Linked DNA regions of Homo sapiens: region 1 is linked to region 2. The links come from fine-mapping of genetic effects on gene expression. Tissue or cell type: whole blood. Region 2 holds a variant in brackets; the other region holds the start of a gene. All regions are shown on one strand. Distances are between the middles of the regions.

Region 1 (2,685 bases), 85 kb before region 2:
CCATTTTCTTACCACACGCGTTTTCTTGGATACTTCCATTTTTCCAGTCTATATAATTCAATACTTCTGTGACAGAGAGGTGTTGGAGTTTTTTGTTTTGCTTTTGTTTTTTCGCAACTCTTTACATACAAACAGCTATGGTCTCCCAGGAAGGAACTTCCTCTGTTGAGTACAGAAGTCTGGGAAAAGACTGGTGAAATTGCATGCGAGGAAGAAACAGGTCTAACTAAATGTGAATCTATACTTTTAAAGCAAGGGACCACAAAGGGTAGGTCCCAAGGAAGTTGCATTGCTTGCTGCACTTGTCACACGGGCTGTACTTTCTTCTCTCATTTATTTCCATTTACAGCGTTGAAAACTGAGGCCTTAGGCTTTGGTTGAAAACCGAGGCCAAGGGTGACCAGCCAGTGAGTTAAGGAGGCCCCAGCCGAACTTTGCTGGAAGTGCTCCAGCATAAAGCCTCTCTCCAGAACCAGCCGCCACTGAGACGTCTTGAAGTCAAAGTAACTCACACCCTTGTCCACCTCGCCCTGCGGTGAAGAAACTTCGGTCGCACAGGCTCCAGAACTCATCTTGGCGTGGGCTGTGACTTACTGGGGGATGGGCCTCCTTTTCGTTCTAGCTCCTAAATGGAGCGGAGCGCCAGGTGGTGTCAGAGGGGGCGGCGGCCCCTCCAATGGTGGCACCCTCAGCCACGGATAAGGTTCCAATTAGGTAAGGACGCAAGTAATGCTGTCGTTTCGGCTGACTGCTCCTTTCATTCCTTGGAGGTGGTCGGTGTCACAAAACGAATTTTCATTTACTCTCAACAGTCACACCAGCCCTGCTAACTGGATGGTCGCAGCCCCGTGCCTTCGCCGGACGCCCTCCTGGAACCTTCAGGCCACCCTGAGGATGGAGACTCGGGTGCCCGCTCTCCTCCCCTACCGCCGCGGGCCTGCGCCCCCCGCCCCGGACCCCGACTCGGACGTTCTAGCCGCACGTGCGGGCGCCCCTGGGTGCGAGCCGCGGACTCACGAGCCGCTGCTTGTTGCTCCCGCCGCCGCGACCTGGGGAAGCGAAAATGAAATTGACTTTTCCGAGAAATGATGAAAGCGGCGCTGCCCGCCAATGAGCTGCTGCGGCGAACTTCCGCACCTCCCGGCCGGGCCGCTCGCGCCCTCCCTCCGCCTCCACCTCCCGGTTGCACAAGCTTGAAACAAACACTGGGGAGGAAGGGCGGAGGGAGGAGGGCGGAGAGGGGAGGCGAGGGAGGGAGCGCGGCCGGAGGAGGGCGGGGGGTGGGGGGATTTCCAGCCGCGGCTCTTCGCAGTTTCCTCTCCTTGTTTTGCTTTCGATCTGGACTGTTCTCAGGCAAGCCGGGGAGTAACTTTTAGTTTTGCTCCTGCGATTATTCAACTGACGGGCTTTCATTTCCATTTCACATACCCTAGCAACACTTATACCTTGCGGAATTGTATTGGTAGCGTGAAAAAAGCACACTGAGAGGTAACATTTTTCAAATAATAGTTGTGACTGTGTGTGTTTCTCTCGAGGGCATGTTTCTGGGGACTGTGGGGGGCCGTGTGTGTATGCGTGTCCTGATGCCTTGACACGATGTTTTGCAGACGGAAAATGCCGGGGTTCATAAATATTAATACTGATTTTTGGAGGAACAGTCGGCGCAATTATGGATCATCTGATTTTAGGGGAAGCAGGTTCTGCTGCTGTTGCTGCTGCTACTGGGGCTGCTGAGGCTGCGAGGAGGAGGAGGAGGAGGAGGTAGAGAGGGAGGAGGAGGAGGAGGTTGGTGGAGGTTTAATTTCACTTTTGGATTTGCAGATGCGGAGAGGTGGCTCCATGGACACAGACCTGCTGTGTGTGCTTCTGCGCCCCAGGTGTTGTGTGTGGGGGTGCAGGTCAGCTGGAGTCGGGCCTCATTTAAAACAAAATTGTGTGTATGTGCGTGTTTGTGTGTGCGCGCGTGTGTGTGTGTGCAGCCACCGCCGCCACCGGATCCGAAGGAGGGGAGCGGGTCCTTCTCGGTGCCCGCGGCGGCGCCTCTCCAGGCTGCCTCCAGCGTAAATAAGCAGGCACCGCTCCCCGGCCGGGAGGAGCGCCTCCAGCCACGGCCAGAGGAAACTTGCTGGGGCGCCCCGCGGCGGTCCAGGGGCTCGCCTGCCTGCCGGGCTCGGGGTCGGGTCGCGGGCGTCGGGTGCCAGCGGCCGGGGCGGGAGGGCGGGCTCGGAGCCGGGCCGGGCGCCGGGCCTGGCCGACGCGCCCTGCTTCCTGGGGGCTGGGCCGCCGCCGCCGCCGCTCAGAAGGGACGCCGCGTCCTCCTTCCCGCCGGCCAGCGCCCGGTCGGGCCCTGGGGCTTTGTCATTGCACTTGTCCCAGCGCGCCAGGGGCTCGGGCGGCGCGTCCCAGGAAGGCACCGTGCCGAGGGGTCAGCCGCCCGGGCCGCGGCCTAGCGCCGTGCGCCCCCGGGTCCCCGCAGGCGCCCCCGGCCGGCCTCGCGCGCTGGGCCTGACCCGCCTCGGCTACGGAGCGGGCGAGGTGGGGGCGGGGAGCCTCCGGGGACCGAGCGGCGCAGTGGGGGCCGGCGTCCCCTCGGGGTCCCGGGGCGCGGGCCGCGGCGGGGTGGGGACGCGAGTGCCCGCCCCGTGCCCTCCGACCCGGCTCCGGGCGCCGGGTGACATTCGCCCG
Region 2 (2,685 bases):
TGTGCCCAGCGATGAAGAGAGTGCCGAGGTAAGCCACTGCCCAGCCTGCCCACGATGCTGCCAAGGAAAAGCCTCCCGACCAGCTCCGGGCTTTCCTTGCTGCTGGTTATGCACCTTTCCTTTAGATCACAAGCTTCACTTTGGGATTTTCTTGTGTGGTGAAATATGCATCACCAGAATTTACCATACTTTTGGGTTTGGGGTTATAAAATTCGGCGTTGGAACTGAAAGGAGGAAAGGGAGTTAAATGTTACCATCAGGTAGAGAAGCTGTGATAGCAGGAAAAGGGAATTGAAGTGGAGGCTGGGAAATGCCGATGCTCTTACCACTTAAACATCCTACTTCACCGGCAAAAATAGAGCAGCCTTCCCAGCCAAAAGCAGTGACCAGTACACGTCACAAAATGCTAAGCAAAAGCCTCTTCCACGTGTGCGTGGGTTCCCTCCCGCTGTGACCCGTGCCCAGAGCTGGTTGTGTGCCCCATCTCGATTCCGAGTGGGTCCCGTCCCCTCTCCCTCCCATAGATGGGGCGTGCACAATGGCAGAAAGTGGCTGGAATGGAGATGGAAAGCATTCCTGCTGGCCACCTGCTGGGGGTCTGCGCTTGAGTGAATGAGAGAGAGAGAGGGAGGGAGCAAGAGAGAGGGAAGCTCATGGTTGTTTGAATTAGTGGTTTCCCATGTACTAAACACTTTGAGAAAAAGTGCAGGGATTCTGAAAAGACAGATGTACACGCTCCCATACACCCTGGCCTGATTTCTTCAAGGTTGCAGCTCTAGCCACTTCTCTGAATGAAGCCAGCCCTGAGGCCGCTGCTTGCTGTACACCGTGGAGCTCTAAGCCGCCCCCATTTGAAAGCAATCAAGGGGCATTCATTGCCTGTCACTAAGTTCCTCGCTGCCTTTTCTCTGAAAATGCAGGTTGGCTCAGGTTGACTGGGCCAGCATTGAGGGACCGAGTCGCTGTGCCACACTGGCCATGGTGACCTGAAACCTATCGAATAATCGGGCCGAGCCGCAGAGCACAAGGGAACCAGAAACCAAGCTGCTGCCTTCTTTTCCTGCCTTCACAGAGTA[G/A]TCTGGAAAGTATTTCTGGGAGGTAGCAAATGGGAATTGATTTTTTAAAAAAAAAGAAAAGGGAAGAAAAACCATTACTTGGCATATGAATAGCTGGGTGCAATAGATTTCAGTTGAGGGATGTAGAGGTGCTAAGCCTTTGTTCATTCTGCAGTTCTTAAGAAACTCAGCTAAAGCACCAACACATGGGAACGACACATTTTTCATTTTAAAATTTTTTTTGTGGGTTGTTGTTTTGAGACAAGGTCTCATTCTGTTGCCCTGGCTGGAGTGCAGTGGCGCAATCATAGCTGACTGAGGCCTTGACTTACTGCGCTCCAGTGATCCTCCCGCCTCAGCCTCCCGAGTTGCTGGGGCTAAAGGTGTGCACCACCATGCCTAGCTAATTCTTACGTTTTGTAGAGATGAGGACTCGCTACATTGCCCAGGCTGGTCTCAAACTCCTGAGGTTAAGTGATCCTCCAGCCTCAGCCTCCCAAAGTGCTGGGATTACAGGCATGAGCCACCACACCTGGCCAGTGATGCATTTTTAAAAAGCCATCCAATAGAAGGAGAAGGAAATACATATCTTAATTACTTTCTTGAAAGGGGCGGCCACACTGGCGGAAGAGGAATATTGAAGGCAAACAGTACCTCAGCAACATGGGGACTCGAGGCTCCTACCTGCTGCCCGGCATGGCGTCCTTCGTCACTTCCAACAAACCGGACCTCCAGGTCACCATCAAAGAGGAGAGCAATCCGGTGCCTTACAACAGCTCCTGGCCCCCTTTTCAAGACCTCCCCCTTTCTTCCTCCATGACCCCAGCATCCAGCAGCAGTCGGCCAGACCGGGAGACCCGGGCCAGCGTCATCAAGAAAACATCGGATATCACCCAGGCCCGCGTCAAGAGCTGTTAAGCCTCTGACTCTCCGCGGTGGTTGTTGGGGCTTCTTGGCTTTGTTTTGTTGTTTGTTTGTATTTTATTTTTTTCTCTCTGACACCTATTTTAGACAAATCTAAGGGAAAAAGCCTTGACAATAGAACATTGATTGCTGTGTCCAACTCCAGTACTGGAGCTTCTCTTTAACTCAGGACTCCAGCCCATTGGTAGACGTGTGTTTCTAGAGCCTGCTGGATCTCCCAGGGCTACTCACTCAAGTTCAAGGACCAACAAGGGCAGTGGAGGTGCTGCATTGCCTGCGGTCAAGGCCAGCAAGGTGGAGTGGATGCCTCAGAACGGACGAGATAATGTGAACTAGCTGGAATTTTTTATTCTTGTGAATATGTACATAGGCAGCACTAGCGACATTGCAGTCTGCTTCTGCACCTTATCTTAAAGCACTTACAGATAGGCCTTCTTGTGATCTTGCTCTATCTCACAGCACACTCAGCACCCCCTTCTCTGCCCATTCCCCAGCCTCTCTTCCTATCCCATCCCATCCCATCCCATCCCATCCCATCCCATCCCGCTCTTTTCCTACTTTTCCTTCCCTCAAAGCTTCCATTCCACATCCGGAGGAGAAGAAGGAAATGAATTTCTCTACAGATGTCCCATTTTCAGACTGCTTTAAAAAAAATCCTTCTAATCTGCTATGCTTGAATGCCACGCGGTACAAAGGAAAAAGTATC

What was found. PIP is the estimated chance that this variant, and not a neighbour inherited with it, causes the effect.
Region 1: IRF2 starts here. The variant in region 2 is fine-mapped to the expression of IRF2 in whole blood (TOPMed, PIP above 0.99).

Annotation. Positions count from the first base shown.
Region 1 is chr4:184,473,182-184,475,866 of GRCh38, reverse strand. It overlaps IRF2 (interferon regulatory factor 2), which reads left to right and starts at 1,317. Exons shown (of 9, transcript NM_002199.4): 1 at 1,317-1,488. IRF2-DT (IRF2 divergent transcript) reads right to left here and starts at 1,065. Exons shown (of 1, transcript NR_186573.1): 1 at 1-1,065. RefSeq lists enhancers at 279-608, 959-1,148 and silencers at 1,179-1,298, 2,109-2,158, 2,239-2,685.
Region 2 is chr4:184,388,046-184,390,730 of GRCh38, reverse strand. IRF2 (interferon regulatory factor 2) reads left to right here. Exons shown (of 9, transcript NM_002199.4): 8 at 1-28; 9 at 1,665-2,685. The coding sequence ends at 1,973. Among named protein-coding and RNA genes, the nearest start is that of LINC02362, 7.1 kb to the right of the region's middle. RefSeq lists enhancers at 127-860, 861-1,594. The variant G/A (reference allele first, on the strand shown) is at 1,077.